4 separate regions of the Homo sapiens genome follow, and regions 1, 2 and 4 are each reported to be linked to region 3. Evidence: microRNA targets listed by miRTarBase, many of them from high-throughput screens and not tested one by one. Region 3 holds a microRNA gene; each other region holds the end of a gene's coding sequence. Distances are from middle to middle.

Region 1 (7,643 bases), not on the chromosome of region 3:
TATACTTTTCAACAAAGCAGGACAGACAGAAAAGGAAAGGGGCTATGGGGAGTGAACATTCAACTTGTCATGGGTTAGCCTAGACACGCAGGGCACTGTTTTGTAGCACCTGGCTAGATGTCTCATAAAGTCGTTACCATTGTCCCACTTCACAGTTCAGAAAGAGGTTCAAAGCTGTTATCTGTCCAAGGGCAGTCGGTCACACAGCTACCAAGCTGTGAAGCCAGAATTAAAATCCAAGTTGAATCTTTATACTCTACCACACTGCCTGGCCAACAGGCAGGGCTCCCAAGGGTTTAAGGACGAGCTCTACTTCCTTTACCTGCAAAGCAGTTGAAGAATGAGCTAGGGCTGGGCCTGGTGGCTCATGCCTGTAATCCTAGCACTTTGGGAGGCTGAGGCAGGCAAATCACCTGAGGTCAGGAGTTTGAGACTAGCCTGGCCAACATGGTGAAACCCCGTCTCTACCAAAAATACAAAAATTAGCTGAGTGTGGTGGCAGGCACCTGTAATCCCAGCTACTCAGGAGGCTGAGGCAAGAGAATTGCTTCAACCAGGGCGGCAGAGGTTGCAGTGAACTGAGATGGCCCCACTGCACTCCAGCCTGGGTGACAGAGTGAGACCCTGTGTCAAAAAATATAGATTAAAAAAAAAAAGAAGAAGAATGAGCTAGAATAGTTTCTGGCTCAGAACTCAGCAGAGTGCCTAGCACACAGTAGGTACCTCAATGTATGATGGAGAGAAAATGTGCCCAAGTGGCTACAACAACCAGAAACTTGATTTTATAGTATGTTGTTCTGGCTACCAGCATTGTGAGCCGGTACTTTGAACTCGTTGGTTAAACTAGTGATAAAATAGTTTCTTGTATCAGTTGGCAGCCTCCCAGCATGTATACCTGTTTCTTCCAAGAAATGTGCTGCCATAAGGATACAATCCTCACCAAATGGGACCAGAAGGTGGGATGAACCCTACAAATCAGGGAAGACAGAACCTCATTTTCTTGGGTCAGATGGTAGAATTTTCAGGGGCAACAAGACATTATTCTACTGACCTTCTCCAAGAGAACGGGTTAGTACAAAGATGAGTGACATGCATCCCGAATTTTCCGGGTCACTCCTAACTTCAACTAGTTTATCCTATTCCCTCCCATACATACATTCATACTCACAAGACTGTACCCTGGTTTGGGATTCTGAAATATAATGGAATGTCACTATCTCCATACACCACTGCACAACTGCCTGATCATATGCTGGTATAGTTCTGGCTCAAGCATGGGACCCAGCCCTTTCGGCTGTGCTCCCTCCACCTCGAAGACAGCATGGCACTTTCAAGCAACACTATTTCCTTGTATTATTTATTGGTATTCTCAGTTGCATCAACTGGTTTATCAGCCATGTGAAGTCAGGGATTGTTTCTCTCCTTAGCTTCTGGCTCAGCAACTGTACAAAGCATTGCCAAACACTGGTAGAAAATGTAAACCTGGTGGCTGGGTGTAGTGGCTCACACCTGTAATCCCAGCACTTTGGCAGGCCAAGGTGGGAGGACTGCTTGAGGCTAAGAGTTCGAGACCAGCCTAGGCAACAAAGCAAGACCATATCTCTACAAAAAATAAAAATAAAAAATTAGACAGTTGTGGTGGCATGCACCTGTAGTCCCAGCTACTTGGAAGGCTGAGGCAGGAGGATCCCTTGAGCCCAGGAGTTTGAGGCTGCAGTGAGCTATGATCCCACCACCGCAGTCCAGCCTGGGTGACAGAGAGTCCATATCTCTAAATAAATAAGTTGCATGTGTGAATCCGTGCAACTTTATCAAAATAATACTTTATCAATAACTATATGACCTAGTAATTCCACTCCTAGGAATTTATCCTACAGGGATATTCTCTCAAGTGAGGAATGATATATGCATTATGGAATGCTCATTGCAGCAATACTTGTAATAGCAGAAAACTGAAAACCATCATTAGGGACTGGTTAAACTAATAATAACAAACTTATACAATGGAATACTATGCAGCCACAGAACAGAGGTCTATACCTCGTAGACCTCCATCCACGTCAGTAAGTAGAAATATACTTGATTTTTCTTAAAACAAAACAAAAAAATGAGTTACAAAAAGTGAGGACAAGTGAAAAAAGCAACTTGTATAAGGGTATGCACAGTATGAATCCCATTTATGCAAAAGAAAGAAAAGGTACTTCTATGTTTGGGTTTAGAAAGTTTCTGGAAAGACATGTAAGAAACCAGCGATTTCTTCGGGGGAGTGGGACAAGGTAGAGAAAACTTTTAAATTTCTACTATGTACCCTTTTTTGTGTTTGTTTTTGTTTTGAGACCGAGTCTCACTGTGTTGTCCAGGCTGGAGTGCAGTGGCGCGATCTCAGCTCACTGCAACCTCCGCCTCCCGGGTTCAAGAGATTCTCCTGCCTCAGCCTCCCAAGTAGCTGGGATTACAGGCACCCGCCACCATGCCCGGCTAATTTTTTTTGTATTTTTAGTGGAGACGGGGTTTCACCATGTTGTCCAAGCTGGTCTGAAAACTCCTGACCTCAGGTGATCTGCCAGCTTCGGCCTCCCAAAGTGCTGGGATTACAGGCGTGAGCCACCGCACCCTGTCCCCCGCCTTTTTTTTTGTGAGACGGAGTCTCGCTCTGTCGCCCAGGCTGGAGTGCAGTGGCAAGATCTCGGCTCACTGCAAGCTCCGCCTCCCGGGTTCACGCCATTCTCCTGCCTCAGCCTCCCGAGTAGCTAGGACTACAGGCGCCCGCCACCACGCCCGGCTAATTTTTTCTATTTTTTAGTAGAGACGGGGTTTCACTGTGTTAGCCATGATGGTCTCGTCTCGATTTCCTGACCTTGTGATCTGCCCGCCTGGGCTCCCAAAGTACTGGTATTACAGGCGTGAGCCACCGCGCCCAGCCCGGTCCCTTTTTTTTAAAAAAAAAAAAAAAAAAAAAAAAAAAAAAGCTGGTCTGCACTTTTGTTTAAAAGCACATTTTTTTTAAATCGCCATAAATTAGGGGCATAGGAAATATATGATGTTCATAATGAAGCCATGCTAATTTAAATTTTGCCTCTCAAGTGTCATGTAACTGGCAGAGCTAAACAACTTAAAGTTGCAGTCCTATCTCTTAAGTTGGGCAGGGTGAGACATTTGTCTGAAAGAGGAAGTGGAAAGAGAAGGACAAACAATGGTTAGGTAAGGCCTCTTGGTGCACCAGTGGTAACTGCCCAGGGGATGTATCTTCCTTCTTTTGGGAAGCCTAGAACCACTATGGGCAATGAGGAATGGGCTACACAATTCAAACTTAGGATAAACCTAACTTCTCATTGAAGAAGAGTCAAATTGGCAAATTTAGGAGAAGATCCACAGCATGAGATCCTAAATGAATTATAGTTTACACATATTATTTAAAAAACTACAGAATATACATAGTACTATGATCTTTTTTTTCTTGAGACAGTTTCGTTTTTTTTTTTTTTTTTTGAGAGTCTCTCTCTGTCGCCAGGCTAGAGTGCAGTGGTGCGATCTCAGCTCACTGCAACCTCCGACTCCTGGTTCAAGTGATTCTCCTGCCTCAGCCTCCTGAGTAGCTGGGATTACAGGCACCAGCCACCATGCCCAGCTAATTTTTGTATTTTTAGTAGAGACGGGGTTTCACCATGTTGGCCAAGATGGTCTCGATCTCCTGACCTCATGATTTGCCCGCCTCAGCCTCCCAAAGTGCTGGGATTACAGGCAAGAGCCACCGCGCCTAGCTGAGACAGAATTTTGCTCTTGTTGCCCAGGCTGGTGTGCAATGGCGTGATCTCGGCTCACCACAACCTCCGCCTTCGAGGTTCACGTGATTCTCGTGCCTCAGCCTCCTGAGTAGTTGGGATTACAGGCATGCACCACCACACCCAGCTGATTTTGCATTTTTAGTAGAGATGGGGTTTCTCCATGTTGGTCAGACTGGTCTTGAACTCCCGACCTCAGGTGATCCACCCACCTCAGCCTCCCAAAGTGCTGGGATTACAGGCGTGAGCCACCGCACCCAGCCCAGTATGATCTTTGTATAAAAAAAATTAAAAACCCATATACTCATGTGTATATGCACATACATGGTTTAAAAACAGTCTAACCAGGAGTGATTGTGCACAACTGTAGTCCAGCTACTCAGGAGGCTGAGGCAGGAGGATTGCTTAAGCCCAAGAGTCCCTTCTAATCATGTCCGTAAATAGCTACTGCACTCCAGCCTGGGCAACACAGTGAGACCCCATTTCTAAAAAGAAAAAAGGTGTAGAAGGATATATGCCAAATTAACAGTCATTACCCCTGAGAAGTGGAAAGATGGATAACTTTTTTTCCTTTTATATTTCTGTACTGATATTTTAAATACTACTTTCGTAATAAAAACTTTTTTAATTCATAATTTTCAAACTTTTTGTGGTCATGAAAAATTTTCAAATATTTTTCTATAAGGAGATTTTAATTTCAACTTCAAGGCATTTTTGATAAACATGCCTTGTCCCATCTGTCTGGGTGGTTAAGTACGGTCTTGCCTGGATACAGGGACAGACCTCATAATCCTTCAAGGTCACTTCAATCTCTGGATTTCTGATAAAGTACAGGTAAGCAATTAATCAGAAATGCAGGGCTTTTTCCTGACACCCAGCAGGCTGTTGGTGTCGTTGGACAAATTCCCCAAAATGAGGTGCTCTTGGAAAATACCCAGAACTCCTTGACTACTGTTTTCTTTACTGACAGACAGACAGACACACACACTCTCTCTGAATGTGTTCAACCAACCTGAACCCTGGCAGCTCAGCTTCACTCAGCCAAGGAGGCAAGGGAAGCCCTGAGGCAGCTACGTTCTGCACGGCTGCCACTTACAGTCTGGGCTTCAGACTTGGGAGAACACATGCCAGAGAAAGAAAAGCTCTGCTGTGATTAAATCACAGATGCTGGGGGTGAGTGTGGGGTGGAAGGGTCTGGCACCCATGCCACCTGCTACACGCAGGAGCTCAATTATACGGTTACGTTCAATACTCAGTCAAGGGACAGGGAGTTGGGGAGAGCAGTGCCATTATAAACTTTGGTTACCTGGGAGAGCCTGGAGAGCTGTGGTTTTCTTAAAGTGGTTAAGTTCTCCTTTGGAAAGTCACCATTCCCTATCCTATGATCCTTTCTCACTAGGAACAACTGCATTTGCTCTTCCTGGCTTTCATATTTTAATTTGGTTCTGAAGCTACGCAGTGGTGGCAGACAAATGACTTGGGAATCAGATACCCTCATTTAATCCTGGAACAAGCTGTCTGAGTGACTTCTACCCCCATGAGGCCCAAAGAAAAACATAATGAAATGAAACCACTTGCTGCTATGAAACAAAAGTGGGCATATTTATGCAGTTGTTTTTATTTATTCAACTGTAAAGACTGCAGCAATTTTTTTGATGAGTAATGCCTTAGATTAACACTAATTATATTGCTATAAATTTGGTTCAGGATCAGAATAGGGTTCAGGAAAGGGAGAGAACAAAAAAAAAAGTCTCCAAACATTAAAACAGAAAAATGCTTTTTTTTTTTTTTTTGAGACTGAGTCTTGCTCTGTCTCCCAGGCTGGAGTGCAGTGGCACAATCTCAGCTCACTGCAGCCTCCGCCTCCTGGGTTCAAGCGATTCTCCTGCCTCAGCCTCCTGAGTAGCTGAGATTACAGGCACACGCCACCATGCTCAGCTAATTTTTGTATTTTTAGTACAGACAGGGTTTCACCATGTTGGCCAGGCTGGTCTTGAACTCCTGACCTAGTGATCCACCCGCCTCAGCCTCCCAAAGTGCTGGGATTACAGGCATGAGCCACAACGCCCAACCTTTTTTTTTTTAAACTTTAATTAAATGCTACTTTCTCATAGACTTCCCTAGACTGGTTTGCAATCTAAGGTAATAGGAAACAAGGCATTGGGCATTTTGAAGAAACTGCAGGTTAAGCTATGGTGCCAAGCAGAAGACTAAACACTGATTTGAGTGTCAAATCTCCAGCACATTCTGGGATAGAGGCAGGTTCTCAAATGTTTCCTAGTGTTCTTTCCTTTTCACTAATTAAATTTTCCCTTCTCTGGCGAATCCAGTGCAGTATACAACCCCCTGATTGCCTCTCTTGGTCAAATAGTTGTTAGAAGGGAACCTGTCAGGCACCTGTGGCTTCGGCTTAGATTGGAAAGGTGACAGACTAGCTCTGATTCACCTCCTCCTGAGACAGCCTGGACAGTGGAGGGATCAACTGGAAGGCCGAAACCTGGTAACAGCTGCCTCTGATTCCTGGTGGAAATGACCAACCAGATTCAATCCATATCACTGGGAAAGATCAAGGAAAAAAAATAGCTTCCCCTCCAAAAATGGTAAAGAGGAAATAAGGAGACAAGAAACCAAAAATACTTAGAATGGCACAAAAAGTGATACGCATAAACTTCTTTTTGTTATTACATCTAACTGTAAGTTTCCTAAAGTCCAGTTATCAAGTTGAATTGTGTGGATAGAGGAGAGAGGCCAACTGGATTTTCTCTCAAGAGTTCACGGCTTCAGTCTGAGAGGTCCTGGGTTTGCGCTGGGGGAGCCCCTTTTTGAATGAAGGCGTGGGAGGGCTGGGCTCCATGCTGACTCCAGTTCCATTGGTCCCTGCAGAGTGAGTCTGGCCTCTTTCAATGGTGTTTCCTGGTGCCTGAGATGGAGCACTCTGATACCTGGAACCAGATGAATACCACGAGCTGTTTCTGTAACGACCCATACTGTCATGCCGCCCTTGGTTCATGGGGTCATTGGACTTTTGGCCTTGTGGCCTATAGCCCTGTCCTCCTCGTCTGTTCCCTGGCAATACCTAAAGATGAAAGAATACAATGTTCAAGGTGCTCTAGCATTATGGTACCCCATTCGTTCACTTTACAGGAGTATTCTGAAAGCAGAATTGTGGTATCCCATGCTTGGGACTCAGTTATCTCTCAAGACTCAAAGAATTCTCTCAGCCAATCCAACCTAGCCACTACTTCAGAACTAATCCATCTTTCCCTGCTCTTCATGCCCAGGCTCTTCTCCACTGAAGAATTTACTTTTCTTTAGCTGGATGCAAGAAGAAAGATAAGGAAGAAAGAACATTCTCTGGGTTGTTACAAGCCCTCGATTGGACAAGTATATTATATTATGTCTGAACTCTGCAGATAAAAGGCCATTGGTAAAGATAATACACATTTGGAATAATAAAGTAAACATCACTATGGCCTGCTTTGCTAAATGTCATGAACTACAGATTAAAGTATGCTGCTGTGGCATTCAGCACATCTTTCGCATTATAATCCGGAAAGCTTACGGTATGGGATTTTATTTTTGTCCTCCAATTCCAAACATCATACCAGTTCTGAAGAATTACTGACAGTACTGCCTTGGATTGCTCTTGTGTTTATTCTTCAAACAGGAGAAGAACCTATGGATTACTCCTCAGCTTTCTAGTGTTTTCCCCCCATCCCCACCAGTTCACTCTCTCTTTCCCTGTAAATTCCACATTGTGCTTCTAGGGAGCTGCTGCTTTCAGATGCACACTGGTAAAACTGCCACTTGTGGTGCCTGTCTACCTTGAGATGGGTGCACGACTCCCAGTGTGACTAATTA
Region 2 (7,643 bases), 150 Mb from region 3:
GGCTTTCTGTCTGCCCAAACTCAGATACCTGCTAGGGGACACTGGGTGGAGGAGCAGGTAGCCAACAGAGGGGTCTTCCCTGGCCTCAGAAGCTGAGGCCTCACCCTCAGACCACGCCTGTGTGTCTCACTGGTTCTCTGCTTTTGCAGCTCCTCCACACTCAGGCAGCCCAAGCCCAGGCAGGCGCGGGCCCACAGTCCCAGACAGGGTGTCCTAAGGAAGGCGCAGCACACGCAGAAGCTCAGGGAGCCAGTACTGGACAGTGCATCTCCGCTGAGGAGGAAGCTGTCAGAGCCAGCAAGTTCACGGCCATCCGACCTGCAGGGCCTGGACATGGTTCAGCTGCCGGGTCCCTCGCCTGTCGGTGCAATGGCAGGAAATAAGTGGTCCTGTCAAGCCAGCAGCCTGCAAGAGGGGCTGCCCTCCTTAGCCCCCGTTTCAATGCAGTGAAGCGAGGAGACCTTTGAGACTTGACTGGGAGCATCATGCTCATGCGGACACCAGTGCAAATTCCTACAGCTCTTTCAGTTTTAGGTTACTTCACTCAAAGGCATCAAACCTGACAGACGCGACCATTGGCAGGAGTCTACAGTGCTCAGTGCTCCTTCTCGGGGTGTTCCTCCCATCGACACTGACATCTATGATTAATGTTTATTTCATGAAAGGACATTCATGACAATGTATAAACATCATCCAGAATCCCACCACTCCAATCTATTTTGGTTTACTCTCTTTCATCCAGGTCTCTTCAGTGTGAATACATAACATCATGTGGTTGAAATCATAGCCTGGATCCAGGCTCAATTCCTTTTCTGGGTGAAATGGTTTGACATTGTGTCATCCATGATAGCATCATGGTAGCACCGTAGTTTACTGGAGTTACTTGAATTTTAGGTTGTTTCCAGTTTTTCACTATCCCAGCGCTGAATTAAACAACATTGTCCTTTACAACCTTTTTTTCTTGTGGATTACTCTCACTTTTCTACTAACTTCTCAGGAGTGGAATTCCTGGGTCAAAGAGCATGGTGCTTTTTTTAGCTCTGCATCCTTGAGTCAGATGGGTTGTATCAATGTATGTACTAAGCCCGTTTTCCCGTGTTCCTGTGCCTTCTAGGTTACCGAGGAGACGAGCCTCGTCCTGCAGACCCTCGGATACACGTGCACCTGTCGAGGAATAATCAACGTGAAAGGAAAGGGGGACCTGAAGACGTACTTTGTAAACACAGAAATGTCAAGGTCCCTTTCCCAGAGCAACGTGGCATCCTGAAGAGTCACCTTCATTTTGGCAAGAAGACTGTATTTTCAGGAAGGTATCACACACTTTCTGACTGCAACTTCTGTCCCTTGTTTTTGATGTGCGTGCTGTCTGTCCTATGGAGCCTCTGCAGACTCGTTCTCGTGACCCAGTGGCATACCGTTTGGTGTCTGATGTGTGCCCAGATCGTTCTGCCACTTGCACTGTGCTTGCTCCTAAGCAAAAGGGAAAAGGAGCGCGCGTGATAGAAGAAAAGCACTGGGAGAACTAACAGAGGAGAAAGGTGAAACACACACACATTCTTAAGGCAATAAAACTAGGGGGTGTATATTATCTTCTGGTGCATGTTCTTTTCTGGAAAATATGGTAGCTCGCCAACCGCATCTGCTCATCTGATATTCAAACACACAGTATTCGTGAATAAGTTGATTCTGTCCCCCACGTGGACTCTGTGCTCACCCATTGTCTCATTGCCAGTGGTGTCCAAGGGCCCCCGTTGGGACCCACGGCTCTCGTCCCTCTGCTCCGTGTGTCTCATGCCAGCAGCACGTCGCCATCCGTCACCAGAATTAGTCCTCACAGCCTAGGACCAGTTTTGTATCAAACTCGTCTGATGTTTTGATGCCATTTGTCTTTTGTAAAGTTAATTCATTAAAAGTTTTATGTACTTTGATTTACAGTGCCTGTATCTTTTATTTTCCTGTCTTCTTTCTCCTGTGGTTTGCTCCAGAATTAAGGTTTGTTTTCCATCCATTCTCCCTTTTGACACAGTTGTTTCAGAAAGAGCTCTCCAGAAGCCAATATTGAGATGTAATTCAGATTAGGACACAGTGTGTGACGCAGATAACTGGTTACTCAGCTCCCTGGAAAGCAGGCAAGCATGTTGAATGTATCTAGTGGTCTGATTTTAATTTGGGCATCTCTAGAGAACGCTTTCAGGGAAAAATACTTTAATAGTAAAAAGATTCTCTGCGAGCAACAGTGCCCCCTCCGTCCACTACGCTCCTGTCTCCAAGAATGTTTTGCTAGAGCTAACAGACATAGACTGCAAAAGAATAATTTGGAATCAGCTATGCAAATCAGTCTCACAATAGCGTGAGCTAACTGAGAGAAGTACTAAGACCCACAAACTGCCTGTTAAGTCTGAGAAGGCTAAAGAAGACACACAGCCAACGTTCATGCATTTTTAAAGACAGAAGGCCTTGAAGAATTTGTTCTTGTAAATCCAACACAAGTTGTTTGGTACTTTTAACATAAAGAAATCATACTTTGCCAAATAGTGAAAAGTAGAGCAATCGTGTATAAGCTAATGTTTAAAAGCAAAACTGCAAATTGTAGCCCAGTTGGTCAAACTTGTTTTCTTTTTATAACTCATGGCAGGCATCTGTAAGAAGTAGAGAACCCAGATGATCTCTTAGGAAGCCTTTTATTCGTGGGAACTCGAACTTGAAGCACAAGTTCCTGGTTTGAATCCTGGCTCTGATTTTTTACTGGCTGTGTGACTTTGAACACATCTCTTAGTCCCTCTTAGGAGTACTTTCCTTATTGGCAACTTATGGACTCGCTAGTGATTAAACGAGGCAATGACTGTGAGCGAGCCTGGCAGGTGCCCCGTGGTACATTCACAGCACGGGCACAGCTGCTGTGCCAGGACTGTGACTCATTCCCAGTAAAAGGCACTTATCGAAGCTGATAACCGTCCTTCATCACCGAAGTGTGAGTAGAGCATGACTTATTTAGTATTCTGCCTCAATGGGGAATTTTTTGATCCTGTAATCACAACTCAGCATTGGCCTTAATATACCTAAATCTCCAAAAACAGTGATTAAAGCAAGAGAATTATTACAAGGGCTTTTCTCTTTCCTCTAACTCATTCTTCACGGATGCCGTAGCGTTTCCGTGAGCTCAAACTGGCCTTGGTGTAAAATGTGTAAGGATGAGCAGCAGGCGTGCCTCGTGGGTTCTTCCTCTGTTACATCCTGCTACACTCATCCGCAGGTCACCTTAGTTCACCTACCCTGAGTGAACACCCCCAGCTGGGTGGTCCACCAAGTTCTCATAAACAGAGTCCCTCCCATTCCCCCACGGGGTGCACCGAACTTGGGTTTGCGCTAAAAAGAACTCAAAAGGAGAACTGTGCTCTCCCAAAGCCATATCACCAGTCTTACCAAACAATAGGCTTTTAAAAGCATTGAGTCATTGTCAGAATCCACTATGGGAAGCTCTGTGTGTACCTGGTCCCTTCTAGGTGTGGTCCCATAGGAGCAGCCTTAGCATCCCCTGTGAACTTATCAAAAATGCAAATTCTCAGGCCCCAACCTGAAGGAGGACCCTGAATTTGAGATCCCCGGGGCTGGGGCCCAGCACAACTGCTGTTTAGTGAACAGGTTCTCCAGGTGATTCTGATCCCTGATCAAGCTTCAGACCTCCCTCCCTCCCCAGTGTTTTTGCAGGTGAGGAAACAGGGGCAGAGTAATTCAGGCACATGTGTTCAGAGTTCCACAGTTGATTAGCAGTTGAGGCCAGGCTAGAATGGAAAACTGCCTGTTCCTTGAATCTGAAAGAGCATTATTCCTGGTCAAAGCTCCTTAAAGTTCTGGGCAGCTAAAAGCATCCCTGTGAGCAAAAATGCCAGGCAGAAAACTGGCAGTGCACCTCTCATCAGCCCAGGTCCCAGTGCCATTGGCTTCAAGAAAAAAAAAAAATCTCTCCCCAATGCTCTCCTTAACCTTTAAGTCTTACAGGAAGCCTCTCATAGAAATTGCCTCCAGTCCAGTTTCCCAAAAACCCCAGTGTTTTACATATCTGTTTAGGAGTGTCTAAGTTTTGTCATCAATCCAGGATGTTATTCTTCCTTCCCAACTCACTGTGCTCCTAAAGGCAGCAACCATTCATCTTTCCTTTGCTCTGGATACACCGAATGACCAGGTAACATCATCAGGCCGGGTGCAGTGGCTCCTATAATCCCAATATTTTGGGAGGCCGAGGAGAGAGGATCACTTAAGCCCAGGAGTCTGAGACCAGCCTGGGCAACATAGCAAGACCCCCATCTCTGCAAAAAAATAAGAAAATTAGCTTGGCATGGTGGCACGTGCCTGTAGTCCCAGCTACATGGGAGGCTGAGGTGGGAGGATCACTTGAGCCCAGGAAGTCCAGAACGTAGTGAGCCTTGATTATACCACTGCACTCCAGCCTGGGTGACAGAGCGAGACTCTGTCTCAGAAAAAAAAAGAAAAAAAAGAAAAAGCAACATAATTGCCCAGTGATGAAAATTTGATAAACCAAAACAATCCATTAATATAAGAAGATATGATGTGTGATGGCTTTAACAAGCATTCATGCATTGGCTTTAAATGATAAACATTGGGATACCGAGAGAAATATACTTCATTTTCTCTTATGGCCTAACAAATGTGAGATCTTTTGAAATCTTGGCCAATTACAGCCCTGCCTTTTGAAAGTCAGTATGTAGTAGAAGGTGAAGGGAGTAAGGTCTGACTGAAAGTAAATGAAAATAATTTAGTTTGACTTTGATTTATTACAGTCACTTACAGATGCCTTGTCTTTGTTGAAATCAAGTCTGAATAATGAATAATTTATAAATATTTCTATAACCCAAACTTTATATATTTTCTATTATGTTACTATAAATATGGTATAATGCACCCAAAGGCATTCGAAATAAACTACTGCCATTTGTTTGAAATAAATAAAAGACACCTACACTGAAAAACTGTTTTCAAAAAAATAAAGAAATACTTAGGAGTCACTCAGCCTTGAAATTGCCGGAATTCAGTGTCATTTATTTTTAGAGAATCCTTTTTCCATATTCAAAACAATAAAACCAGTGATGGAGCGATCAGTATTGAAATTAATTAGGCCACCTGCCCATTCACTGCTAAACTGTGGGAAATTTAATCATGGTAGATGAGAGATGATTTCTTCCAAGGGATCCATTCATTAAAAATGTAGCTGATGATACTTTAATACTTGGGTAAGTTTCAAATTATCTCCAAAGTAAGTATTTCCAACTTAGGTTACAAGCGACTGCTTCCAAAAAGAAGACTGTTTAAAGTCAAGTCATTGCTGTGATGACGGGGCACTGGGTGGGGCACACACTGGGTACCTGTGTTATGCCTGTGCTCCAGCAGCTCATTGCCTCCCGCATGAACTCCTCTAGGTTTGGAAATTCCACTTTAAATATGAGGAAATGTCTGCTCATGTAGATGATATGACTTGCCCTAGAACACAAATCTAGAAAATGCAGCAACCAGAATTTTACCCAAGTTTGTTGAACACCGAAATCTAGCCTCTTCCCATGACTGGCCCCCTCTCTCTGAGCAGTAATAGTGAGCATTGCTGGCCACCAGGGCCACCCATCCTTACTAGGGCTCCTGGTCCCTACTGCACAAAATTCTGTTATTTGGGATTCAGACCTCTGGAAAAACAAAAATGGAGTTTCTAGAGTTCAATTGTGCCAAAAGACAATTGTCATCACATCTCCTCTTGGAGAAGGGAACATGTCAGGGTTGTTTGTGTTCAGGCAGCAGGAGTTCCCCTAACTCGTGGGAAAAGCAACTGCACCTCACTCCTGTGACTGCCTCCCCAAAGAATCCTGGCAAATGTAGAGAGCCAGTGAACAGAAACCAACCCAACAGTTACCAAGGGGAAACAAAGTTTTCATTTTATTCAGGTGCTCACAATGAATCGGTCTCCAGATTCATTTGATCAAAAATAATTCCAGCTGAAAATCATCACATCAGAGACTCTTCACATGTACTAAAGGTGTTGTTGGTCAGGCTCCTAACCCAGCAACCTGAGGGGGGCTGCTAACGTGTTCATGTGTCCCACTGTAGAGATGCAACACAGGCATAGCCAAGCTCCTAGGCGTCATGAGAAGGGGAAAGGAGGCTCCAGATGCCACCTTCTCGCTGTGCAAACTTGCCAGGCCACAGGGTATCGGACATGCCCTGTGGGCCACGGGGATGCTTCAGGATGGAGCAATGTGCCCAAAGCCGGGTTCCTTGAGGCTGGGGATGTCGTTCTTCCTGTAGAAGTCAGCCTGCACATGGTTGGCACGGCCAAAGTCCCGGTTTAGGGGCTCAATGGGCTGATTGATGCGCTTCCCATAGACAGAAGACGTCAGCACTCCAACCGGCCTCTCCTGTTCCTGGTGAAAGTTATCAAAGCACATAGTCAGCACCACTGCATTCGCCAGCACAGCTCACCCGTGCATCCATCAGCCTGGGTCCTGGGAGCTTTTTCTGCCTGGGTCCCACCATGGTAGACCAAGAGGGAACCTCCACGCTGAAGCCAGGGGCTTCACAGGGAAGTAGCCTATGGCAGGGAACCGTTGAATTTGCTAGAAGGCTGGCTGGTGTATTCATTGGACATGTTGGGAAACTGTGCCGGACCATTTGCTCTACCCGTTTGTCCCTGTGCTCTTCCTGGTCATTTCCCAGCTCCTGCTGCTGCTGGTCCCTTCCCACCACCCAGATCCTGGCTCAGATGTCCAGGTCCTCCCTGACCCCTCCCCTCCCCAGCTCCCTGCTCATCCCTCTCACTTTCCCCATCTTACATCCTCACATGGCTTCCTCTTCCCTCATACCACTCATCACTACCTAGAATTTGCTCATCATTTCTTTTTTTTCTTTTCTTTTGAGAAGGAGTCTTGCTCTTGTCGCCCAGGCTGGAGTGCAATGGTTGCAACCTCTGCCTCCCAGGTTCAAGCAATTCTCCTGCCTCAGCCTCCCGAGTAGCTGGGATTACAAGCGTGCACCACCACGCTCGGCTAGTTTTTGTATTTTTAGTAGAGACAGGGTTTCACCATGTTGACCAGGCTGGTCTCGAACTCCTGACCTCAAGTGATCCACCCACCTCGGCCTCCCAAAGTGCTGGGATTACAGGCATGAGCCACCACACCCAGCCCATGATTTCTTTGCCTTTTTCTCTCTTCCTTCAGGAATGGCAGCTCTGAGAGGGCTTTTTTCTGAAAAACTACCTGCCACAGTTTTCTCCTGAGGAAGACAATAACTTTGCATCAACTTAGAATGCACCACATGTGCTGGTTATGGTGGCTTGGTAACTAAACTTGGAAGAAATGTTCTCGTGTGTGCAATTTCTGCTCCGCAAGACCAACTTTTCTAGAAAAATTATGAAAGCCAGGACTCAGAGGTTAAGCAGAGACTTGTTTTATCCGTTGAAGGGAATGTCTTAGCTTTGCTGTCCTTAAATTGTTAAATTCTAAAGAACCAAACAACAATATCAAGAAAAATACACAATGACATGACTGAATAGAGGGAACTATATATAATAGTACCTTAGCCTTAGCTTCTTGGCACAAAAAGATAGAGGAGAGCTGCATAAAGAAAATTACATAGAGCAGCTG
Region 3 (7,643 bases):
CTTAGGTATACGTCTGTGAAAGGAAAATAGATCTCAGAACTCCCAAAATCACTAAGCCAAAGGGAAGTCAAACTGGGAACTGTGTGAGGCAAACCTGCCTCCCATTTTATTCCTACGTAAGCTAGCTACAAAGATAAAAAAGCTACATACCTCCCTCACAATTTGCCCACTAGGAAATTCCTTGTGGACAAAGGACAGACAGAATTCAGTCATTCTTTTGCTCATGTGAGACCAATGCATATCTGATTGCTTCTTCTGCCCTATTATTTCACTAAGCCAGACTAAGGAATAAGTGACTATTCCTCTACCCTCCTCTCACATGTAAATTGTGTATTCAGTAAAAGGCTAACCAGAGACAAAAAAATGCAACAGTTTGTCTTGTATCTACCTATGATCTGGAAGCCCCCACCCCTGCTTCTAGTTGTCCCAGCTCTCCAGACTGAACCAATGTACATCTTACATATACTGATTGATGTCTCATGTTTCCCTATAATGTATAAAACCAAGCTGTGCCCCGACCACCTTGGGCACAATGTTGTCAGGACCTTCTGAGGCTGTGTGACAGGCATGTTCTTAACCTTGGCAAAATAAACTTCCTAAATGGATTCAGGTCTGTCTCAGATACTTTTGGGTTCACACATCCATGAGAAATGCAAACATATGTCCATACAAAACTTGTACATGGGTATTCATTCATAGAAGCATCAAATAGGCAAAAGGTAGCAACAACCCAAATGCCCATCAGCTGATGAATGGATAAATGAAATGTGGTAGATCCTAACGATGGAATATTATTCATCCATAGGAAGGATGTACTGATACGCATTAAAACATGGATATATCCTGAAAGCTAAGTGAAAGAAGCCAGTCACAAAAGGCCGCTGATTATATGATTTCATTTATATAAGATGTCCAGCATATATATAGACAGAACGTAGATCAGTGATTCCCCAGGGGTGAGGGAGGGGAATGGAGATTGACTGTTAATGGTTATGGGATCTATTTTGGGGATGATGAAAATGTTCTGGAATTGATTATGATGGTTGTACAACTCTGCAAAATACTAAAAACCAATGCATTTTTTACTTTAAATAGGTAAATTTTCTGGTGTGTGAGCTATATAGCTATAGCTCAATAAGGCTATTATATACTTATTTTATTTTATTATTATTTTTTAGAGACAGAGTCTCGCTTTGTCACCCAGCCTGGAGTGCAGTTGTGCAATCTTAGCTCACTGCAACCTCTGCCTCCTGGGTTCAAGTGATTCTTCTGCCTCAGCCTCCCAAGTAGCTGGGACTACAGGTGTGCGCCACCATGCCTGGCGAATTTTTGTATTTTTGTTAGAGACGGGGTTTCACCATGTTAGCCAAGTGAAACTTGAACTCCTGACCTCAGGTGATCTGCCTGCCTCAGCCTCCCAAAGTTCCGAGATTACAGGTGTGAGTCACCACATCTCGCCTATATACATATTTAAAAAACACTAGCATGGTCTCTATGCTTATGGAAAACAGTCTTGTTGGAGAGATAATTTTAATCAAATAATTATACAAAATTATCTAACAATTACAAATTACGGTGAAGGAAAGAATCCCATATTATGAAAGAGACTAGCTGGAGGCTGATGGTGAGGGAGTGGTAGGTAAACATTCAAGTGCTCTTACAGAGATCCCCAAGTAACAGTGGCTTAAATAAGGTAAATGTTCCATTCTTGCTGATCTATCAGTGCAGGTGTAAGCAGTCTAGGGTGTATAAGGAAGCCTCACACTTTTGGGGCTCTTCTGGCATGCTGCTCTGCTGTTCCCTGGGGGGCTGCACTCATTTGCATGGTCCACAGTGGCTCTCTACCATGTCTACAGTCCAAGCCTGAGAAGAGGGAGGGAAACAGTAAAAAACTCTCCACTCCTGCTCATATCCAGCACTTTGTCACACCAGGTGAGGAAACAAAGTCAGATGTCCATGTGTTCAGATACCACTTAAGGGTTCTATTAGTATAGAAGGAGGAGAGAATATATATTGGGCAAACAATCAGCAATCTCTGCCATAGATGGCCTCTCTGAGGAAGTGACATTGAAAGCAAGAACATCAGGATAAGTTGATGTTAAAGAGAGGAACGAGTTTTCCAGGCCAGAGGGATGGCATATGGAAGGGTCATGAGGCAGGAAAGGCCAGCTACCATGTTTAATGATGCTTAATGATGTGTGTGTCTACCATACACATCCCCTACAGATTAGTTTTTGTTTTGACAGGGTCTCTCTCTGTGGCCCAGACTGGAGTGCAGTGGTGCAATCATAGCTCACTGCAACCTCCAATTCCCAGGCTCAAGCGATCCTCCCACCACAGGCCATCATGCATGGCTCATTTTTTATTTTTAGTAGAGACAAATTCTCCATGTTGCCCAGGCTAGTCCTGAACTCCTGGGCTCAAGAGATCCACCCACATCAGCCTTCCAGACTGCTGGCCTGGTCTCCTCCAGATGTTTATAACTCATGAGTGCCAGGACTAGACCTGGTACTAGGAAGCAGCTGCATTGGATTTACCAGGCTTTTCACTCTTGTATTTTACAGGGCTGGGACAGGCCTGGACTGCAAGGAGGGGTCTTTGCACCATCTCTGAAAAGCCGATGTGTATCCTCAGCTTTGAGAACTGAATTCCATGGGTTGTGTCAGTGTCAGACCTCTGAAATTCAGTTCTTCAGCTGGGATATCTCTGTCATCGTGGGCTTGAGGACCTGGAGAGAGTAGATCCTGAAGAACTTTTTCAGTCTGCTGAAGAGCTTGGAAGACTGGAGACAGAAGGCAGAGTCTCAGGCTCTGAAGGTATAAGGAGTGTGAGTTCCTGTGAGAAACACTCATTTGATTGTGAAAAGACTTGAATTCTATGCTAAGCAGGGTTCCAAGTAGCTAAATGAATGATCTCAGCAAGTCTCTCTTGCTGCTGCTGCTACTCGTTTACATTTATTGATTACTTACGATGATTCAGGTACTGTTGTAAGTGCTTTACATGCTGTTATACGAGACTCTTGGGAGAAATCACTTTAATGAAGCTTGAGACACATGGCATTGCCATGCAATGATTTTTCCCCCCTCTTCACGGGATCAGAGGGAACTAATAGAATGTGACAATGATTCTTTAGCAGGGACTGCTGAGGCTTCTGGTTCCTTTTTAAGATCTGCAGTGAAAGAAGATGAGAAACATGGATATGCCCTTCTTTTGGTCCCCCTCTTCCTTTATTTGATCTCTACTTCCTTCTATAAATATATTAGGGCTACATTGTCCCTTTGTATTTCAAACAAGGCAAAAAGAGGTTGTAATTACACTTTACTGCAATCCTCAGTTTCTCCAGGGAACAGGAATGCAAAGGCTTTGAAGGCCTCTCTATTTGCTGACATGGTCAGCTGGGTGCCATGGGCCAAGTCCTTCTGTTGCCCTCCTCTGTCACCAAGTAAGCTAGGTCCTTTCTGAGGCTCAGGTTTGCTGTGATGATGATCACTTTTAGGCAGAAGGTTAGAGGCCTCATGAGTGCTATATGGACTTTATTAGGCTTTAGATTTGATGGGGAATAAGGGATGTGATTTGTCTTTTGGGAACTCATCTTTGATTCATCATTGTCTCTTGGTATCTTGGAATTTCCATGTCATTACAGTCTACAGAATGAAAGAGTAACCTGTCCCAGAGGAGAGGCAGGTGAAAGACTCCACAGCATGCTCATTCTCATTCTGTCTTCTCAGTGACACCGAGGTTTACTGAGTGCCCACTATGTGCCAAGCACTGTGCTCAGGGCTTTCTTTGTATGCATGATCTCAGTGAATCTCACCAAGCCTCATCTGGAAAACGGGGACAAATTAACAACAGGATGGCAAATTGAAAAACACGTAACCATGTTCTACAGATGGAAAGGGGTGCTTGGTTATTATGAAGGCCCCCTCGCAAGCGTGTGGGACATGGGTGTGTTCTCTGGGTTGTACTGATCAGATCAAGGACCTCCCCCACCCTTCTCACACTCTGCCCACTTCCGCCCTTTGCTTATCAGACCCTTAGCCAGTGACTCATTCCAGAACCAGAACCTTGGTGAAATCTCAACCGACACCAGAGATCGGTGTCTTCAGTCCTAGACTGATGGAGAAAATCCAGAATATATACTAGAAGCTCCAAATGCTCTGGGTTTCAGCTCCTCTGTGCTGTGGACACTGACTTTGGCTCAGAACTCCGATTTAGTACAAAAGGCTCATTTTTATTTCAGGGGCACTCTTCCTAAAGCAAACCTAATAAATGAAATATGGAATTCACAGATACACACACACATTAAAAAATTAACCTAGTGTATCTGTGAGGAGTAGGCAGAAATTCACTGTATAAAAGAATGCTTCATTTCATAGAGAATTTGTGTTAAGATTCCATTAGATAGTACATTTCTCAAAGATTTTTGAGGTTGTATTTGCTTTACCAAAACTTGGTTTATGTAAGTGGAAAAAGCATGTTGCAAAATAACTTGGTGTCTATGATTCAGTTTATGTAAAATAATAAATGTATGTAGGAATACGTGTGTTGAAAGATGTACATCAATTTGCTAACAATGGTTATCTCTGACGTGGTGGGATTTGAGATGTGTTTTTCTTTTTGGTTGTATTTTTCTCTATTGTTTGACTTAACACAGAACATGTTTGGTTACAACAATAAAGTTATTGAAGACAATATAACACCCAATTGTGATGAGTCCAGACAGTACTCATGCTGTGCATTTATTAGACAGTATGCCATAGAGGTGGGTCATGGAGGAGTGGAGAGAGAGCCCTGATTTGTTGTCCCATGAAGAAGATAGGCACAGGGTAATATGTAGTGTGATTCTTTTTTTTTTTGCACGAGGAGAAGTGTGTGTGTATCCGTGTAAGTGTATGGATATCCAGTGGGTAGTGGGTGTTAAGATTGCAAGTGATTTTTTTCCCCTCTCCCTTAATCATGCTTTTCTGCCTAAATAAAAAAAGAACTCTCTCCAAAAATCCATCCATGTGTGCCAGTGGTTTTTAAATGTGTTTCTTGGAGCAGCAGCATCAGTATCACCTGTGACTTTTTTTTTTTTTTTTTTGAGTCACTCTGTCACCCAGGCTGGAGTGCAGTGGCATGATCTTGGCTCACTGCAACCTCCGCCTCCTGGGTTCAAGCAATTCTCTTGCCTCAGCCTCCCAAGTAGCTGGGATTACAGGCGCCTGCTACCATGCCTGGGTAATTTTTATATTTTTAGTAGAGACGGGATTTCACCATGTTGGCCAAGCTGGTCTTAAACTCCTGACTGCAGGTGATTCGCCCACCTTGGCCTCCCAAAGTGTTGGGATTACAGGCATGAGCCACCACGCTTGGCCTGGGAATGACTTTTGGATTAGCTAACCAACCTGTGAACTTTTTAGAAATGTAAATTTTCAGGCCCCACTCAAGACCTCCTGAATAGAAAACTCTAGGGGTAGGGCCCAGCAATTTCTGTTTTACCAACCCTTTGGCTGACTTTTATGCACACTAAAGTTTTAGTACTGATAGGGTCAATCAAGGGACATCTGCATTCCCCTGGAACTGAAATATAGCTGACATTGACATGAAAGATGCTGGCCCACTCCTACAAGTATGCATGCAAGTATTCCGCAAAACTTATTTCTGAGAGATGAACAGCAGGACCCCAAAACTTCAAGATGGTTACAAGTGATATTTCCACCGGTGAATAGTAGATTTCTAGGTTTTTAATGTGCAAACTTTAGGTGCATAAAACCGCTTGAAGAAGTTGTCAATTAAGGCAGGTCATGCCCCTGACCCACAGACTAGGCATTTCCAAAGTATCTGTCATTTTAACCATCACTCACTGAATGTCATCAAGGAGGTCCTAGGACGACACTTAGAGCAACTATTCCAGGCTTTTTCAAATGCTGTTTTCCCCCTCCGTACTATTATGTTTCTTCTTCCCAATTCATCCTTTCTCTTCCTGTTGTGATTGATGGGGTCTCAGAAGCAGATTAGCCATCCTTTCGGCTCTGTGCTTGGGAGAGAATAGCTCACATGCTGCTAGAGAGGTGCCTTGGGAGTAATAATAATGATAATGGAAGTATTGATTTGCCATCCTCTGATAACAAAGGAAGGTCATGATTTATCAGCTCACATTAATGGGATGAGGTGGAAAGTTGGACACACTACCTCACAGTCTGCCTTTCCCTTGTGCTAGGTTGCTGGGATTCACTGATTTAGGGACACAGTGGTTTCCTAAGTCCTGCCAGCAGTCAAACCTTTGTTAGTTAAAATGGAAATTTCTTTTTTTCATATTTTCTCACATCTAGACTCTTGCCCTCTTTTCTAATAATATTTCAGAGAGGCAGCTCCCAGTTTGGGTGTCCAGGTGGTCAGAGAGTCTGGAAAAATGCTCTGGGGGCAGGAAACCAGGGTACAAGCCATCTTGTCTAGTTCCTCTTTGCTCTTCTTAGCACTAAGGTGATTTCACAACAGTTTTTTAAGGATGTTCTGCTCCTATCTCCTGCGGAAGCCCTTCCAAGTAGAAGAGTTAATTTTGATTATTCCTGGGAAAGTGCAGAAAATATAATTACAACTTTATTGGATATTTACAAGATACACAAGGTATCTTGTAATAATGAAAGATTTCTCTATTTTCTATATCTGAAAACTGAGGCTCAGGGAGGTTACATAATTTGCTTAAATTTCACACACAACATGTTAAGTGTCACAGCTAGGATGTTAATCAGGACTGCACAGTAAGAACCTATGTTCCTTTCACTAAAGTTTGTACTGTGTTAGGATTTACAATTTGTAAAGCACTTTAACACACATTAGTATATTTGCTGAACACCACATTCTTCCGTGAAATAGCTCTTCTTTTTTTTTTTCTCTTTGAGACAGAGTCTTGCTCTGTCACCCAGGCTGCAGTGCAGTGGTGTGGTCTCAGCTCACTGCAACCTCCGCCTCCTGGGTTCAAGCAATTCTCCCTGCCTCAGCCTCCCGAGTAGCTGAGATTACAGGTGCCCACCACCACGCCTGGCTAATTTTTGTATTTTTTACTAGACAGGGTTTCGCTATGTTGGCCAGGCTGGTCTCGAACTCCTGACCTCAAGTGATCTGGCTGCCTTAGCCTCCCAAAGTCCTGGGATTACAGGCGTGAGCCACTGTGCCTGGCCATAGCTCTTTTCATAATCCTAATTTTAGAGATAGGAAAGTGGAATTTTCAAAAGATTTTGCAACGTATCTGTGCCCCGTGCCATATAGCTGGTAACTGGTGACGTGGAGCCTCAAAACCAAAATCCCTATAGCAAAAAGATCATTTTTACTTAAAAAATGTATACAAATATACATGAACTTAGAAGGAAGGAAAGAAAAAAAATCTTTTGCCTCTGTTTCTGCAGTGTGACTGAAAACAGAAGAGCATGCATTGAGGCCCACTCTGACTTATTCCTCCACCTGTGCCTTTGGTCAGCAGGAGTGAGCCCCCGTCCATGACCAATTCCACCCCAAGGACACAGTTATACTTTAAAATATGTGACAATTGAGAAGCCATATGTGCTTTTTCTTTGGGTCCTGCAATGCTCCTAAGACTGGTCAGATTCCACTGTCTCTGATCAGCACATGTTTATTTATTTATTTATTTATTTTATTTCTGA
Region 4 (7,643 bases), not on the chromosome of region 3:
TTATTATGACTGTTCCCAGGAAGGTGAGTGCTGAGTTTTCTAGACAATCCATATTTTAAACAAATGTAAAAATAAAATTCAAAAATCCCAGGCCTTTCTTCTTCCTTACCCACGGGTGCCAAATGTCTCTTGTAGTCTGACCTTTTCCAAGATGACCTGTATCCTGACACAGCGGGGCCAGAGGCCGCGCTGGAGGCAGAAGAGTGGTTCGAAGGCAAGAATGCAGACCCAATCCTCATCTCCTTGAAGCACGGGTACATTCCAGGCAAAAACAGGGATCTCAAGGTGGTCAAGAAGAACATTCTGGATAGCAAGCCCACTGCAAACAAGAAGTGCGACCTGATCAGCATCCCCAAGAAAACCACAGACACGGCCAGTGTGGTGAGGACCAGTGGAGTGCAGGGGTGCTTGGCTGGTTCAGGCTTTATCCTCTAGAAAGCCCTTGTGGTCCAGGGCGTCGGCGAGTACTGTCCCAGCTGGGTGCTCAGGGGTTTTCAGTAAATGAAAAAGTGGGAGAAGGTCCTCGGTCACGTGATGGTGGTGGTTTGTGGCAACACTTGCCTCCTTTAACGGAGTTAAAGCTCCTTTAGCCCCATTAAAGGAGCCAAGTGTGGCCACAGACCACCATGATTGGGATAGGTATCAGTTTCCTCCTATCTCTCAGTGTGAACAGGAGCCTCTTGGGTTTTTCCTGTCTTTTGCCAAACTAGTTAAACCCTTCTCTGATTTGGGTAGAAATAAAATATCATGGGAGTGTGGGGTCATAGGCACCAGGGAGAGGAGGTCCCTGGAAGGAGGGAGTGGCACGTGTTCAGATGTAGCTGAGTGGCTACGACAGAAGGATCTGGCGGTGTGGGGCTGGCAACAAGGGGGATTTAGGCAAGAGCCCTTTGGGTGGGGAATTGGGAATCAAGCCTGCCTTTGACTCGCTGCGGCCACTGGAGAGTGCTGCTGTTGCCGGGAGAGCAGGTCCTGGGTAAGAGAGAAGGAGTGGACACACAGGGCAAGGGTTTCCCTCCCAAGAAGGAGCCTCACAGATGGCAGGAGCTCTGTAGCCTCTGGGAGAGTCACCCCTCTCTCTGGTCAGATAGAAGTTACTCTTGATGGAATGATTGGGGTGGTTAGGACGTAGGACACTGTTGAAGGAGCCTGTTTTGTCCTATAGTCTAACTGTGACCCAGGAGACCCTTTGTTTGAGTAAATGCACAGGCTTCGGGATCAGAAGTGGCACTGTGACACTGTGACACACTGTTGTTTTGCCACGGGATCTCAGATAGATCGGCCAGTGCTCATTGCATTCAAAGCCCCAGACATAGTAGGGCTTTGACTTCTCTTTTCAACTTGGTGACTATGGCTTGCCGTTTGCAAAATAGAAAACTACATTTTATATCTTACAAGTTTTGAACAGTGTTGAACTTTGTTTACTGCATTTTAATCACTGCCTCCTTTTTTTGTTTTCTTAGCAAAATGAAGCCAAGTTGGATGAGATTTTAAAAGAGATCAAATCTATAAAAGACACAATCTGCAATCAAGATGAGCGTATTTCCAAGTTAGAACAGCAGATGGCAAAGATAGCAGCCTGAAGGTCCCACCCCCACCCCTACAGAAAAAATGGGAGCAAGAACTTGTGCTTGGGAGCTGGTTATTGGTGTGGTCCTAGGGAGGGCGGAAAGGGAGGCACTGCCATTTGGAGACATTCCATTTCAGATTTGTCAACCAGCGATAGGCCACATTCCAGTAAGAACTCAATTTGTCTCCCAAATTTGCAGAAACAAAACGTGATTTAAAAGCTGAGCTTTTTATCAGAAAGCTTTTTTGATGTTTTAAGTGTTATGTGACTTGTTGAACTTTTTAAAAAGTGCTACTTTTAAAATCCCAGATACTCTGAATTTTAGAAAACAAACTAATTCTGATTGTGTCGTGCCCAAGTACCCTTTTTTTTTTAATGAATAGGGACCAATGCCACATTGCTTTTTATATTTCTTTCTTTTTTAATGTTGCCAAAACCAAAAGTAGCTTTGTTTTCCTTTGTATTTTGCTACTTTGCAGTATTTGTGTGTGTGGTTTTTTTTCCTTAATTTGAAAGGGACAGCACTGTGTATGTTTATAAACTAAATGAAGATAAGATATTATTTTGTATAAACATTCATCTGAGAACAATCAAAGCAGTAGCCACATGGTGCTGGCTCCTTTGCAGCACAAACCTGGTCATTTTGATGACTGTACAACAGGAAGACTTGAAAAATCACGTGGATTCATATTACCACCGCTCTCATTTCATGGAGTCTTCTGATCAAAAAAGCTCACGTCGTATTTCTTCTTTTCCTTTCTCTTTTCTAGAAATTGGGTGTTTGTACCAGAATGGAATTTTGCTTCTCGGTTATCCTGTGCTTCAGATGATTATAATCTAACCCAAACTAGCATGTGTTTCTGCAGTTTGTTACACACCTAGGATCATATTGCATTCATCACTTTAAACATCATGTTTCAGGTTTTGGTCAATACTTGACAAGGGTGCCCAGGACAGGAAGACGTGTACTGCTGAGTGTTCCTTCTTGCCCTTTTCAGCAGCTTGCCCAGCTCTTGAGTACAGTGGTGGGGACTAAAAATGTGGGCATGTGGAGAGGGGTATTTGCCCTGGGTGATCCTGTTTCCCTGTGCTGTCCCCATGCTGTGTTGGAGGAGGAAGTGGCTCTCCTTCCACCAACAAAGCTCCTGCTCTACCCTCTTCCTCACATGTGCTGCGACCTCTCTCAGGGCTCCCCCAGCCATTCCTTCTTTCCTTCCTGCCTTTTAGCTCTAACCACATTAAGCTAAGACAAGGCCAGAGGGTGCGATTGAATGAGTATTGAGACTGAGGAGAATGATAGAGAGTGAAGCAGAAACAGGAGCACAGACCTCTGCTGTAGCTTTAATGCATACAAACATGTCCCTCCGCACAACTAACCTGCCCTGCCTCTCCATCTCTCACCAAGGCTGCGTCAAAGCACAGAGGCTCCCCGGACTCGGAGGGGGCCAGAGACTGAGCTCTGGTCACCTGTTCATTCCTCGGTTAGCTGGAACTTTGCCCCGTTTCCAGTTTCTTATAGTGCATGCTTGGGAAACAAGATTTAAGGAGCCTCTGTTTTGGAAGGGCTGTCTGTGATTGAACGTGAAATGTGTAGTGCCATTGGGACCACGAAGGGAATTCTTGCACATGCTCGTGCTGGTGTGGGCATGGGACTGGCTGGAAACGTCTGTATGCAGGGAGCCAGGGTGAGGGCAGAGTGTGGTGACAGCCGAACTTGGAGTAATGTCCGTGTAGAAAAAGGACCATGTTCTTATCCAGCCAATACTGGGAGTGCTGTCTCCACAATTTCAGGGCATCTGAATGTTTGATGTGGTTTTGTGTGTGTGTATGTATGTGTTTAATATTGAAGTGGATCATGAGATGTAAAGAAAACAATAATGGCAATGACTTATATTCAAATCTGTATTTGTTTCTTTATCAATGTAATCTGCTGAGGACCTTTTGTCTAAGATTCAGTAGTGTTTTAAGGTTCTGATATCGAATTAATGAAGTAAAGTTGTTGATGGTGGTGAAACACCGTAGGGCATGTGGTTCAAAGAGAAGCAGGAGGGCAAGGGAAAGTTACCCTGATCTTAGTTTGTAGCTTATGACTTATTTAATGAATGGATGCCCAGCCAAGCTCAGAGTAGGCGCCCAAAGCATTGTGGATTATTTTCCTGTTTTGTCTTTTTTTTTTTTTTTTTTTAAGCCATGACATCCCAGAAGAGGACAGTGAATTACTCCTAGGTCGGCTCTTATAGAGTGGCCATAGTGTTCTGTCAAAACACTTGCTTCCATTTTCAGAGATAAAAATCATTGATTACAAAATGGTGTTTGTGTTTATTTCACGCCTTGGCTGTCTGTGAGGCAGCCCCCACCTCTCTGCCTGACATAGCTTCTCTGACTTTGGTGGACGAGCACGGTGCCATACTCCTCTCCGGGGGTAAGTACAGGGGAAGCGCGTGTGGGTGGCTCAGTTCAAGTACAAGTGAGGTCTCCAAGCCAGTCAAGCACTGTGTTTTGGCTTCCAGCAGACCTGAGCCTTTGGATCCTGCCTCAGACCTTTGCCAGCGGTGTGTCCTGGGATGGGGTTCCTAATCCTTCTGAGTCCCTTTTCTTGAAAGGAGGATGATAATTCCATGTAGTTCAGATGAGAGGAATACCTGTGTGGCCACACAAACAACCCTCGCTGCATGGCCGCTACTGTTACTATTATGAGTTGATTTTCTGACAGAGTCTTTGAAAGCACTTTTTCTTCAATAGAAGCAAAATTCTCTTGGCTCAGCTGTGACTTTTATTCCAGCAGGCTTCCAGGGTCAGTTGAATTGCAGGGCTTCCCTTTCGCACTATGACATTGTCTCGTGACATTTCAGTGATTGTAGCAAAGAATTTCCCACTGTTTGCTTTTTCTGAATATGATGAATGGTCAGCATAAAGCTCCCCTTCCTCAAATGCCTTATCTTAAAGTTGCTTTAGTCTATGAGAAGAATGGCTGCCATGTTCTTGGTCCACTCGTGGCTGCAGGAAGTAGAAGTTGGCAGGGCTCTCTGTAGACCCGAGGTGCCCGCAGTCAGCCAGGAGACGCGTGGTGGTCTGTTTATGACTAACTTGTTTTCTCACTCGGGCCACCTTGATTCTTTGCCAGAAGACCTGAAGGTCAGCATGCTGGCCCCAGACAGCCAGCCAGACCTCGTCTGGGGGGAACTTCCATTTTTTTTTTCAAGGTCACTTCCCTTGCTGTACTTGGTATTCTACACCCAGAAAAACTCTTTGTTGGCTCTTAAGAATCTGTTAACTCTAAGTGGGCCCTTCTCTTTCTGCGGGCACATTAAGTATCCCAGTGCTGGCAGTGGGTCACGGACATGAGTCACCGTCAAGGGCACGCCTTTCCTGCTTCAGACGGGCAACCCTTGATGTCCAGGCCGGACAGTGCCCTTTGTGCTCTTTTATTCGTTAAAAAGAAGTCCCTTGCCAAAGAATGTAGGGGTGGCAGTCCTCTCCTGCGAAAAGCGGGTATGTGCGGGGTGGACAGCCTTTCCAGAGGGCAGTCTGGCAAGTGGATCAAAAGCCTTAAAGGTTTTCTTAAGACCCAAGATTCTCACCTTTGGAAATTTTGTCCCAGGGAACTAGTGGGAGGTATATTCAGGAATTAGAAGAGTAAAATCAACTCTGCAGAAGGGGGTCAGTAAGTTACTTGTCATATCCATATGTTATAATTCTGTTCCATTATTTAAAGTCATTTAAAAAGAGTATTGAATAGGAAACATTAAAAAAATAGTAAAATAAAGTCAATTCCAACTTGGGTTTAAAATATATACCTACCTAGGTTGAAACATGAAAGTATATTATTTCTGGGTGCTGGATGTCACTACCAACTTTTTTCTGTGTATGCCAAGAGCCCTACAGTGAACTGTGTTGCTGATGTCAGCATAAAAAGTGTGTTTACAAAGTAATTCTCATCAGCTCTCTACCCCATGGAGTCACTCTGCAGTAAATGATGTTAGTTGGCTAATCCATTCAGAAGTAAAATGGGGAAGAAAGTGAAGTCCATTGGACCTCATAAGAACATTCAGGACCAGAACTTCTAGTGAGAGGTGTAGGTTTCCTAATACAGATATGTAAAACCAACCCCGAACAGATGGCTTGTGACAAACTTTTTAAAGGATATATGCATATACAATGTATACTTATGTGTAGAATAAATACCAGAAATGTTGTTATTGCTATAGGGAGGTAAAGTTGTGTGTAATTTCTATTTAATCCTATTTTTCTGAATTTAGAAATTTCCTATAAATGTATTTATTCCCAGAAAGGCATTATTAAAATTAATGTATTAGTGATAAGTTAATAATTATTAAGATAAGCATAAATCAGTGGAGATGTTTGAAATGGTGCAGCAACATTTGGTTAGCTGTGGGGGCAGCAGGGACACCAATATACATTCTTAATGGAGTCCACAGTTAAAATAAAACCTTTTCTTTTTCTATTTAGAAGAAAGTAAGTCCCTTTTAATCTACACTTCAGACTAGAAAAAATGTAAGCCCTAAAGCAATGGAATACATCACAAAGGAAAAGACAGATTGGCTATATAAAAATTAAATTACGTAAGACTTTAATATGGCAGAAAACAAAGGTCATCGGAACTGGGAAATACGTTTTCTTCCAATATAGTAAGGGCTAAGTATACTTTGATATGCTTCATCTCAGCTGCAGCTGCTGCCTCTATTTGAAACGTGACGTGTGAAATGTTAAGTCCTAGGCAGCTGATGTGCAGATGGCAGCTGTCCTCATCCCTCCTGTGGGAACCGAGTCCACCAGCAAATGGCTTATTCTCAACTTCGAACTTTGGGGTGTGGGGTGGGGGGGGGTGTGTTCGCTAGGCGACACTGGCCGTGGTGTGCCGGCTGAAAGTTCCCCTGTGGCGAGTGTCAGGAGGGCTGGGTGGGAGATGGGAATTACTGCGCATCCCAAGATCCTTGAGGATAAGGTGACTGCTGAGTTGGTTGGATTGGCTGAAATGTGGAGGGGGGTGAGTTTAGAGAGGCAGATGGGATCCTTCAAATTCATTGTAGTTGGAGTTTAATTCATGTGAACGAAAATGGGTAAGAGGGCAGATTTTAGGATCCTGAGTTTAGTGAGGGGCAGATAGAGGGTGAGGCACGCGGCTCCCTGACAGGCTTCATGGTGAGGGGCTAGAAAGCAACGTCAGGGCCGTTGCCCAGGGAGCCTGAGGGCAGAAGTCAGAGGAGGAAGTTACCCACTTCAGGACTCAACTTGGAAGGCAAGTAGACAGGTCTATTCTGCTGTCAGAAAAAATCTGCACACTTGAGCTTGGGCACTCACCACCGGGTGCTTAGTTTTGTTCTTAGAGTAGCTTCCTCACACTGATCTCAAAGAGTAAGTGGACTTTTGGGGAAGGACTTCCTGGTGGGTTTGGAACAGAACTGGGGAGAAGTGGCTCAAAGGCCCCCAGGCAGTTGTGGGGGCAGAGAAAGCTTTGGGCTGCCAGAGAGGAGCAGTCATCTGTGTCTCCGAGGGGAAGAGCAGGGAGCAGGCCTGGTTACAGTGGAAAGGGATCACACACAGGGTGCCTGGCCCCCAAAATGCTGCGGAACGTGGTTGGGGCTGGTTGCCAAGTTTGTCCAGGCTCCTCTCCACTGGGTGTCTCTCAGGCCCCCAGCAGCAGGGCTCCCTTCCCAAGAGCCCTGTGCCTCTCATCGCCCATTTCCTAATCTCTACCCCACTAGGTAGGGTTGCATTCGTCTTGGCATTCACTGAGTGAGAACTTGCATTTACAGTGAGAGTGTCACCGAGCTGGAGAGAACTGTAATGGAGCAAGTGACCCCTGGTCCAGCCAGGAGAGGTGCTCAGGCTAACACTTAGTGCCTTGAGGGAGTTCAGCAACAACATCCAAGCTTGGGGGCTCTAGTGATGAAGTCTGAGAACTGGGAAGTGCCCCATCCATGACAGGGAGCTGTTGCAGCTTCATTTCCGTGCAGAGATGCTATTTGGGTTGTGGAAGTTGGAATAATACCTCTTGGCGAACAAAATCCTGGGCTGCTTATCACCATCCCCACCTACAGCTCCCCAAATG

What was found. The annotated mature microRNA hsa-miR-146a-3p reads CCUCUGAAAUUCAGUUCUUCAG and lies in region 3 at 2,674-2,695, shown strand. An mRNA with a match to its seed (bases 2 to 7 or 8) in the 3' UTR can be bound and repressed. Matches are read on the target gene's strand: a 7mer-m8 pairs with bases 2 to 8, a 7mer-A1 pairs with bases 2 to 7 and ends in A, and an 8mer does both.
Region 1: miRTarBase lists SPATS2 as a target of hsa-miR-146a-3p. The part of its 3' UTR that is shown has no 7-base or 8-base seed match.
Region 2: the mRNA of ADCY2 is a reported target of hsa-miR-146a-3p. Seed matches in the 3' UTR shown: 7mer-m8 at 3,746-3,752.
Region 4: the mRNA of CORO1C is a reported target of hsa-miR-146a-3p. Seed matches in the 3' UTR shown: 8mer at 3,849-3,856.

Annotation. Positions count from the first base shown.
Region 1 is chr12:49,525,159-49,532,801 of GRCh38, reverse strand. SPATS2 (spermatogenesis associated serine rich 2) reads right to left here. Exons shown (of 14, transcript NM_023071.4): 14 at 5,377-6,858. The coding sequence ends at 6,547. Among named protein-coding and RNA genes, the nearest start is that of KCNH3, 10 kb to the left of the region's middle.
Region 2 is chr5:7,825,605-7,833,247 of GRCh38, forward strand. It overlaps ADCY2 (adenylate cyclase 2), which reads left to right. Exons shown (of 25, transcript NM_020546.3): 25 at 1,115-4,477. The coding sequence ends at 1,267. It overlaps CFAP90 (cilia and flagella associated protein 90), which reads right to left. Exons shown (of 3, transcript NM_001089584.3): 3 at 4,774-6,425. The coding sequence ends at 6,246. Among named protein-coding and RNA genes, the nearest start is that of CFAP90, 22 kb to the right of the region's middle.
Region 3 is chr5:160,482,735-160,490,377 of GRCh38, forward strand. It overlaps MIR146A (microRNA 146a), which reads left to right and starts at 2,618; the gene lies at 2,618-2,716. It overlaps MIR3142HG (MIR3142 host gene), which reads left to right. Exons shown (of 2, transcript NR_132748.1): 2 at 2,565-4,692.
Region 4 is chr12:108,641,343-108,648,985 of GRCh38, reverse strand. CORO1C (coronin 1C) reads left to right here. Exons shown (of 11, transcript NM_014325.4): 9 at 1-23; 10 at 136-381; 11 at 1,464-3,877. The coding sequence ends at 1,583. LOC105369968 (a long non-coding RNA gene) reads right to left here. Exons shown (of 3, transcript XR_007063449.1): 3 at 2,321-7,643. Among named protein-coding and RNA genes, the nearest start is that of MIR4496, 9.4 kb to the right of the region's middle.